Linked DNA regions of Homo sapiens. The protein of the gene in region 2 purifies or fractionates together with the protein of the main gene of each other region. This does not show direct contact. Each region holds a gene or a part of one and is shown on either strand. Other genes may lie near its edges.

Evidence for each region.
Region 1: the proteins of ARX (region 2) and MRRF purify together in Homo sapiens (affinity purification with mass spectrometry; one large-scale study listed by BioGRID and IntAct). This does not show direct contact.
Region 3: the proteins of ARX (region 2) and PIK3C2A purify together in Homo sapiens (affinity purification with mass spectrometry; one large-scale study listed by BioGRID and IntAct). This does not show direct contact.

Annotation. Positions count from the first base shown.
Region 1 is NC_000009.12:122,274,826-122,278,481, forward strand, and holds part of MRRF (ribosome-recycling factor, mitochondrial isoform 1 precursor), read left to right. Parts: intron 1-3,656. UniProt on the Homo sapiens protein: Responsible for the disassembly of ribosomes from messenger RNA at the termination of mitochondrial protein biosynthesis. Acts in collaboration with GFM2. Promotes mitochondrial ribosome recycling by dissolution of intersubunit contacts.
Region 2 is NC_000023.11:25,003,102-25,006,029, reverse strand, and holds the end of ARX (homeobox protein ARX), read left to right. Parts: intron 1-1,119; coding exon 1,120-1,360; 3' UTR 1,361-2,336; downstream 2,337-2,928. UniProt on the Homo sapiens protein: Transcription factor. Binds to specific sequence motif 5'-TAATTA-3' in regulatory elements of target genes, such as histone demethylase KDM5C. Positively modulates transcription of KDM5C.
Region 3 is NC_000011.10:17,113,894-17,117,549, reverse strand, and holds part of PIK3C2A (phosphatidylinositol 4-phosphate 3-kinase C2 domain-containing subunit alpha), read left to right. Parts: coding exon 1-59; intron 60-3,084; coding exon 3,085-3,189; intron 3,190-3,656.

The DNA.
Region 1 (3,656 bases), on a different chromosome or scaffold from region 2:
AAGTTATAAACCTTTTAAAAGAGTCTTTAATTTTTTGATCTCTCTTTTTTGCAATTTTATGATTTCTGTTCTTTATTATTTACTTTCTCCTGTGTACTTGTTCTGTTTCTATCCTCTGAGTTGGACAATTAGTTCATTAATTTTTGGTCTTTCCTGTTTTCTTTTTTTCTTTGAAAAATTTTATTATAAACATGATGCTTTGATATACATGCAGTGATATGGTTACATACATGCAAATTAACATATCCATTATCTTACATAGTTACCTCCTTTTTTTTTTTTTTGCGAAAGCACATAAAATCTGTCTTAGCAAAAAATCCAGAGTATAATACAATATTACTAACTATAGTCCTCCTATTGTACATTAGATCTCCAGACTTGTTCATCCTACATATCTACTACTTTGTATCCTTTGATTTATATCTCTCCATTTCCTCACCACCACCACCACCCCACCCCGCTGACCCCTGCTAAGTATTATTTTATTCTCTGTGTGTATTCATCTTTTTTGTAGATTCCGCATGTGGTTAGGCATGGTGGCTCATGCTCATAATTCCAGCACTTTGGGAGGCCGAGGCGGGTGGATCACTTGAGCCCAGGAGTTCAAGATCAGTCTGGGCAATGTGGTGAAACCTCTTCTCTACAAAAAAAATACAAAAATTAGCCAGGCATGGTGGCATGCGCCTGTAGTCCCAGCTATTCAGGATGCTGAGATGGGAGAATCACCAGAGCCCAGGGAGGTTGAGGCCTGTAGTGAGCTGAGATCGCACCACTGCACTCCAGTCTGGGTGACAGAGTGAGGCCCTGTCTAAAATACAAACAAGCAAACCCCAACCCTGAGATTCTGCATACAAGTATAATCATGCAGTATTTTTCTGTGTGTGGCTTATTTTGCTTAGTGTAATGTCCTCCGGGTTCATCCATGGCAAATGGCAAGGTCTCGTTTTTTAAGGTTGAATAATATGCCACTTTATACACAAACACACACACCCATACATGCACCCACATCATTTCTCTATCCACAGACACTTTGGTTGTTTTCATATCTTACCATTGTGCATAATACTTTCTTCTTTATTTTTATTTCTTATTGTTTTTTTGAGATGGAGTCTCCCTCTGTCACCCAGACTGGAGTGCAGTGGCATGATCTCAGCTCACTGCAGCCTTGTCCTCCTGGGTTCAAGCAATTCTCCTGCCTCAGCCTCCCAAGTAGCTGGGACTATAGGCACTTGCCACCACGCCCAGCTAATTTTTGTATTTTTTTTTTTAGTAGAGATGGGATTTCGCCATGTTGGCCAGGCTGGTCTCGAACTTTTGACCTTGGGTGATCCGCCCACCTTGGGCTCCCAAAGTGCTGGAATTACAGGCATGAGTCACCACGCCCAGCCTGTTTTGTTTTGTTTTGTTTTTAAAGTATTAAGGTTAGAAGTTTCTGTCTAAATACAACTTTAAATGCTTCCTATAAGGTTGTTTATTTATTTTAGAGATAAGGTCTTGCTTTGTTGCCTAGGCTGGAGTGCAGTGGCACAATCATACCTCACTGTAACCTTGAACTCCTGGGCTCAAGTGATCCTCTCGCCTTGGCCTTCCAGAGCGCTGGGATCACAGGTGTTGAGCCATCGTGTCTGACTTGAGTTTTTGACATTGAATATTTTTATTATGGTCATTTCTCAATATTTAAACATTTCCATTATGCATTTCTTTATAGCCCATGAGTGTTTATTAAGAAGTGTTTAAAGTTTTTCAAACAAATGGTTGTTTTGGGGTTAGCTTAATTCTACTCTGTTCAGAAGGCATGTTCTATATGATATAGATTCTTTTATTTTTGTTGAGATTTGATTTGTGTGTAAAACATGGTTGTTTCATAGAAGGTCCAAGTGTGCTTGAGAATAATGTGTATTCTTTTTTTCTTGGGTGTATTGTATTAGATCAAATTGACTAATTTTATTGATCAACTTTTCTGTTTTTTTATTTGCTTACTTATCGGTTATCAAGGAAGGTATATTGAACTCTCCTAGTATGCTTGTAGATTGATCAGTTTCTCCTTTTTTGTTGTTTTTTGAGACGGGGTCTTGCCCAGGCTGTAGTGCAGCAGTGCAATCACAGCCCACTGCAACCTTAATCTTCTGGGCTCAACTGATTCTCCTACCTCAGCCTCCCAAGTAGCTGGGACTACAGGCACGCACGGCCATGCCTGGTAATTTTTGTATTTTTTGTAGGGACTGGGTTTTGCAATGTTTCCCAGACTGGTCTTGAACTGCTGGGATCAAGCAATCTGCCCACCTCAGCCCCACAAAGTGCTGGGATTACAAGTGTAAGTCACTGCACCCAGCCAGTTTCTTCTTTTAATTGTATTAATTTTGAGGCTATCTTATTGATATATTTAATCTTAGAATTGTTATATATCTTTCTGGTGAATTGTTTCTATTATCATTTTGAAGTTGTCTTCATGATTTCCAATAGTGAATTTTGTCTTAAAATCTTTTTTGTTTGATGATAATGTAGCTACACCAGCCTTCTTTTGACTGATGTTTGCCAGGCTTATAATTTTTCCATCCCTATACATCAAACTTTCTGTGATCTTTTATAATTTTTAAAAACCGTTATGTTATATTCAGCTAGATTTTTAAAAATCTTACTGAGAATCTCCCACTTTTAACTTGTCATTTTGATCCATTTATATTTATTGTAGTCACTGCATATTTGTGTTATTATTTTATTTTGTACTTTCTTTCTTTTTTTTGAGACAGAGTCTCACTCTGTCGTCCAGGCTGGAATGCAGTGGTGCAGTGTCGGCTCACCGCAACCTCCGCCTCTCAGGTTCAAGTGATGCTTGTGCCTCAGCCTCCCGAGTAGCTGGGACTACAGGCATACGCCACCATGCCCAGCTAATTTTTTGTATTTTTAGTAGAGATGGTGTTTTGCCTTGTTGGCTAGGCTGATCTCAAACTCCTGGCCTCAGGTGATCCGCCCGCCTTGGCTTGCCAAAGTGCTAGGATTACAGGCATGAGCCACCACGCCTGGCCTTATTTTGGACTTTCTTTATATCATGTTTTTTCCTTTTTTCTTTTTTTTAAATGCATATTTAAAAATTTTTTTTATTGATACATATTTGTACATACTTATGGGGTATATGTGATGTTTTGTTACATGCATAAATGATTTAAGTTAGGGTATATGGGGTATCCAGCATCTCAAGCTTTTATCATTTTTATGTGTTGGGAACATTTAAAGTTCTTTTAGCTGTGTTGAAATATTCCTTTTTTTCCTTTTTTCTTCTTCTTTTCCCATTAGATTAAATTTCTTTATCCCTCTCTCTCTCTTTTTTAAATTCTGCTGATTTGGAAGATATACTTTTAATTTATTATTGTTTTGATGGTTACCCTTAACTAATTTTTTAACCTTTTTATAGAAATAAAAAAACCCTGTAGGAAAGTGCAGCTGTCATAAATTTCACAAGCTGAAATCACTTACAGCACCCAGATAAAAAAAACAGAACATTCTTAGCATGTCAAAAGTCCCCTTTGTGCTTCTTTCTAGTAAGTACTACCCTTGACCCTTTGCAGATAACTATTATTCTGACTTCTAGTAGCATGGATTCGTTTTCTCTTTTTTTTTACTTTTCAGTTTATATTCTCATATCTGGCCTTTGTACT
Region 2 (2,928 bases):
GGGTGGTGCGAGGAGTGAGCAGTGGGCTTGGGAGAAGGAGGCGGCGCTCGGTGAGCCCAGGTGGGCTCATTTCTAACCCTGGAAATCCGGAATTGGCCCCGCGGGCCTGGAGCCAGACCCCTCAGGGAGGCGGTCGGGAAAGCTCGCGGGCGCTCCAAGGCGGTGGGCGTGGGGGTGGTGTCCGGTGGCCCCGGGCGGCTCCGGCCACAGCTAATGTCCCGGTGCTGTGTGCATGGGGTGGAAGCGTCACGTGGAGTAATTCGGTCGCCGCTTGGAGGCGGTGGCGCTGGCGTGGGTCCCAGGCTTGGGCATCGCCTTGCGCCGCGCGCCAGGGTCGTGGGTCGGGGGCTCCCTGAGGCCAGAGGCTACAGGGGCGCGGGGAAGACAGCTGGGGTCGCCGCGCCAGGATGTGGGGCTGCTGGCAGGTGACACCCGCCCGTGGAGCCGAAATCAACAGGCGGTCGCCCTTCACTCTCACCCGCAGGCGCTGGCCAGACGCGGGTAGCTGAGTCCCGCGCGGAAGGGCGGCCGCGGCGGCGCGGGTGGCCCGGGAGGCCGGCGAGCTAGGCCTGTTTCTTCAGGGCGCAGAAAGTCCCGGGCCAAGGAGCCGGAGGGAGATCTCAGAGCCTGCGGCGTGCGTCCGGGCAGCTGGAATCCCACCTTCTCCGTCTTTTTTTTCCTCCCCCCTCCCACCCTCCACCTTCCCTTCTTTTGCTCTCCTCTCCTTTTCTCCTTCCGCATTCTCTCCTGGGAGATAGTGTCATTGCAGCCCCTGGCCTTGGAATAAACCGTCCGTTTAAGCGAAACCACCGAATCCACGCCACTGGGCCGTGGGGCTTGAGGTCTCCACGCCGGCCTGTGGACCCCGGCCCGGCCCGGCCCCTCGGGGAATATCTGGACTCGGTCTTTTCCCCCCAGTCGGTTCCCTGCCCCAGGAAAGCCCTCTCTGCGGGGTCCAGCTTCCGCCCGCGCCCTCTGCCCACTTCCCCGCCGCGGCCCATCCGGGTCCCGTGGGTACCGCGCCCCTCAGCTGCCCCGGCGACAAGCGGCGGGAGACGCTGCCCGAGGCGCCGCGCACAGCTCCCGAGGCCATGACCGCGCTGTTTGCTCTCCCTGCAGGCTCTTTTCCACAATGGCCCCCCTGACCAGCGCGTCGACCGCGGCCGCGCTCCTGAGACAGCCCACACCCGCCGTGGAGGGCGCAGTGGCATCGGGCGCCCTGGCCGACCCGGCCACGGCGGCCGCAGACAGACGCGCCTCTAGCATAGCCGCGCTGAGGCTCAAGGCCAAGGAGCACGCGGCGCAGCTCACGCAGCTCAACATCCTGCCGGGCACCAGCACGGGCAAGGAGGTGTGCTAAAGGCTGCCCTCCACACCCGCGCCCCGCGCGCGCCCCGAAAGGTCACCTCACTCAGCACCACTCAAGACCAAATGGAAACAGAGGACCAGCACACTCCCGAGACGGCACTGAGAGAGCGCAGCCGCCTTCACAGCAGTCTGGATGCGGGCATGGCAGCCCTCGGCGCTCCGGGACGTGGCACCTCCTCGGCTGGCTGTCCACCCGCCCCTGCCCCTGCCCCTGCTACTGCCAACCTCGCTCCAACTCCAACATCCACTCTCTCTTGTTCTTACTTTCCTGAAAATATCGGGGAGGTTTTCTCCCCCAGACGCCTGATATTGAAGTAAAAAATTTAAAAAGCCCAACCTCTTCCTCCTGACACCCCACTTAGCCTTTCTTTTCTTTCTTTCTTTCTTTCTTTTTTTTTTTTAAATAGCATTTTGGCGCTCGAAGTTGATCTCCCCAGCGAGGGCCCCAGCGTGAAGCCAGGGCCCGGGAAGCAAATGCGAGCCTGTAAGATAGCTAACAGTGCACTTAAAGGAAAGGGGCGTCTTGTTCTTGTTCTCTTCTTTATCATACACCAACCAAGGTTTTTATATCAAACCAAAGGGAAATAATACTCTGCTAGAATATGGACTGTTGAAGTCACCAAACTGTGATTATTGATTCTGTACATACCATTGTTATTAAAAAAAAAAAAAAAAGAACAGAGCTTTGTATATTTGAAATGTTATAACGCAATTGCACTCAGCGTGGTATGGTAAAAGTTTGTCCTCCCGTAGATTCTTACTGTGTTGTAGATACGGTAGGGTTCCTAGACAAATATTTATGTACTCAAGCCCTTTATTTAACTTATTAACTGTAGAGGCTTCCGAAACCTTCAAGATAAAGGCAATGGTACAGTACTTTTGTGTAATGTGTAATTGTTACCACTTTTCCTTGCTATCTAGTGGAGAAGTGTCACGCTCAAAATAAAAAAATTATATGTTTAACAAAACGAAGTGTGAATGCTCCATACAGGCGCTGAGGGGACAGTAGAAGCCCCCACCCCCACCCCCCGGGAGTCAAGGGTGGGCTCCAGCGTCCAGGCATCTCCTGGGATTATCTGCACACGCGTTTTCCTGGCAGAGGCCCCTGGTTTGAATCCGATCCTCAAAGGGAACCGGATTTCCTACGAAGGTTAAGGACGCCGCCGCGGTACTTTCCACGCGCACCTGGGCTCTCCCGGGTCGTGTCACAGCGGGAGCTGGGGGTCCCGGGCCACGGAGGTGGGGTGGGTTCCAGGATGGGTGGGTGGATGGTGGGCGTTGTTGACGGTGGAGTCAGAAATTTGAAGCAAGCGGGAGTCTTGGCTCGGAAGGCGAAGGGAGCTGTTGGAAAGTGCCACGTAGCCAGGAAGTGAAGTGCGCAGTCCGAGATGACAGGTAATGGCGAGAGCGAGAAGCCCAGGCGCTCCCTTCCGAGGGGGCGGGCTCCACGGCATGTTCGCAGGGAGGAGGGAGTGTGTGTGTGTATTGTGTTGTGTGTGCGTGTGTGTGTGAGAGAGAGAGAGAGGGAGGGAGAGAGAGAGAAACATGCGGGAGCAGTAG
Region 3 (3,656 bases), on a different chromosome or scaffold from region 2:
TACAGCTTTTAGGAGGAGTAGCAGAAAAAGTAAGGCAGGCTAGTGGATCAGCCAGACAGGTATGTACCCATAAAAGGTAATATAAATGTGTTAATGTTAAAGGAAGGATCTTTATGGTGCTGACTAATTAAGTTGCTATTCTTTATTGGTAGACTCCCAGTAGAACTCTAACTATACCCATGCTATTTGGGGCAGATAAATTCAAAGATTGTTTAAAATATATAGGAACATATTTCACAACCTATTAAAATCAGTGATTTTCCCATGCTTATTTATTTCCATGCTTATTTATTCCTTTCTGATGAAAATTGTTTTCTTGAATTCCTTTACCTCCACTATCAAAGTCCACAGTATTTTCATCACACCAAAAAGAAAGCATGTCCCCATTTTCCCCTCCCAGCCACTAAACTGTTTTCTGTCAATATGGATACGTCTATACTTCTATATGGATATTCTGGACACTTCATGGACTTTTCTGTCTAGTTTCTTTCACTTAGCATAAAGTTTTCAGAGTTCATCTGTGTTCTAGCATGTGTACTACATGCCATTTTTGGTTGAATAATATTCCATTGTGTGGATATACCACATTTGGTTTAAACATTCATCAGTTGGTGGACATTTGGGTTGTTTCCACTTTTTGACTATTAATAATAATACTGCTGGCCAGGCGTGGTGGCTCATGCCTGTAATCCCAGCACTTTGGGAGGCCCAGGCGGGCAGATCACGAGGTCAGGAGATCGAGACCATCCTGGTTAACATGGTGAAACCCCGTCTCTACTAAAAATACAAAAAATTAGCCAGGCATGGTGGCGGGCGCCTGCAGTCCCAGCTGCTCGGGAGGCTGAGGCAGGAGAATGGCGTGAACCCGGGAGGCGGAGCTTGCAGTGAACCGAGATCGAGCCACTATACTCCAGCCTGGGCGACAGAGCAAGACTCTGTCTCAAAAAAAAAAAAAGAATACTGCTATGAATATTCATGTATAAATTTGTGTTTAAACAACTGTTTCCACTTAGGAATGGCAGAGCTAGGTCATATGGTAGTTCTGTGCTTAACTTTTTGGGGAATCATAGAATTATTGTCTGTAGCAGCTATATCACTTTACATTCCCACCAGCAATATAGAAGGGTTCCAGTTTCACCACATCCTCACCAACATTGTTTTTTTTCCTGTTTTTTGATTATGGCCATTCTAGTGGGTGTGAAGCAGTATCTCGTTGTGGTTTTGAGTTGAATTTCCCTAGTGACTAATGATATTGAGCACATTCTCATATGTTTATTGGCCATTTGTATTCTTTGGAGAAATATCTATTCAAAGTCCTTTGTCCATTTTAAATTGGAATGTCTTTTTTGTTGTTGAGTTGTAAGAGTTATTTATATATTTTGGATACTAGACCTTTATCACATACACTATTTGCAAATATTTTTTTCATTCTGCAGTTGTCTTTTTAATTCCTTAATAGTGTCCTTTAATATATTAATACAAAAATGTTTAAGTTTGATGAAGTCCAGTTTATCTATTTTTTTCTTTTGTGGCTCATGCTTTTAGTGTCATATCTAAGAATCCATCATTAAATCTAATGCCATAAAGATGTACACCTGTGTTTTCTTCTAAGCTTTTCTAGTTTTAGCTCTTATGTTTAGGTCTTTGATCCGTTGTGGTATGAAGTAGAGGCCCAACTTTATTCTTTTGAATGAGGTTATCCAGTTGTCTTAGCACCATTTGTTAAAGAGACCCCCTCCTTCCTCTTGAATGGTTTTGGCGTACTTGTCAAAAATCAGTTGACCCTGTGCTTGCTTCGGTAACACATATACTAAAATTGGAATGATACAGAGAAGATTAGCATGCCCCCTACACTACGATGACATGCAAATTCGTGAAGTGTTCTGTTAAAAATTTTTAAATAAAAAAGTTGACCACATATATGGGTTTTTTTCTAGACTCTCAATTCTATATCATATATGTCTATCCATATGCTATATTTGTTTTTTTTTTTTTTTTCCTTTTTTTCCTTGAGATGAGGTCTCTCTGTTGCCCAGGCTGGAGTGCAGTGGTGTGATCACAATTCACCACAGCCTCAGCCTCCTGGGCTCAAGTGATCTTCTCGCTTCAGCCTCCCAAGTAGCTGGGACCACAGGTGTTTGCCACCATGCCTGTCTTTTTTTTTTTTTTTTTTTTTTCTTGTAGGGACAGGGTTTTGCCATGTTTCCCAGGCTGGTCTTGAACTCCTGGGCTCAAGCAGTCCTCCCATTTTGGCCTCCCAAAGTCCTAGGATTATAGATATGAGCCATCCACCCAGCCTATACTTTTTTTAATTACCATAGTTTTATAGTAAGTTTTGAAATTGGACAATGTAAGTCCTCCTACTTTGTTCTTTTTCATTATTATTTTTGGCTATTCAGGGGACACTTGCAATTTCATATGAATTTTAGGAACCGTGTATCCATTGCTGCAAAAAGGCAGTTGGAATTTTGATAAGAATTATAGATTAATTTGGGGAAATATTACATACAATCTTAATTATAAACTATTACCTCTATATACATTGTTTACCTGTTTTCTCTTTACTAAACAATACTGCAATGAACTTTGGTTGGTGTGTACATTTTTATTTCTTTGCTAGTATTTCTTTCAGAAAATTCCTACAGGTGAAATAGCTGAGTCAAGAGCGACATGTATTTTTAGTTATAATAGTTGTTACATTGCTCTACAAAAGAAGCTACACCTGTGTACACCTCTCTCCCTACCAATAAGTTATGAAATCGTTTCCTAACACAGGATGTTGTTTTAAATTTTCATCTGATAGGTGAAAAACTGCATTCATTTTTGTTTGGCTTCTATTTCTTTGACTATTAGTGAGCTTTAACATTTTCGTATACATTGGTTGGCCAAATGTACCTTTGCCCACTATATTTATAGCCTTTGGCCATTCTAGTTTTATAGTAAAAATTAACTCTCTTTAGTAACAACCTTTTTTTCACCGTTTGACAACTGGGCATTTTATAAATTGTATCCACAGCATAACTTGTCTGAAAAATAGATCTTCATTTTCATTATGTACTTACAGTATCACATCTCTTTCTATAGGTTGTTCTCCAAAGAAGTATGGAACGAGTACAGTCCTTTTTTCAGAAAAATAAATGCCGTCTCCCTCTCAAGCCAAGTCTAGTGGCAAAAGAATTAAATATTAAGGTGACACATAAAATACTTATAAGTTCATATTACATTTGAAAATAATAGGAAGAAGGCAAATGGGCAGGTATGCTTAAGGCAAATGAAGGTAAAACCTGCACAGGTTGGTTATAAGCATGGATGGTTGTGATTAGGATCCATATTTATCTTAGCATATTTTTTTACCTAACCACCATTCCTGGGAAAAAAAAAGTATAAAATTATTTACTGCCTTGGGCTTCATTTTTTTAAATTGGTCTCACCTTTTTATTTATTTATTTATTTATTTATTTATTTATTTTTTGAGACAAAGTCTCACTCTTGCCCAAGCTGGAGTGCAGTGGTGCGATCTTGGCTCACTGCAACCTCCACCTCCCAAGTTCAAGCGATTCTCCTGCCTCATCCTCCTGAGTAGCTGGGACTACAGGCACACGCCACCATGCCCAGCTAATTTTTGTATTTTTAGTAGAGATGGGGTTTCACTTTGT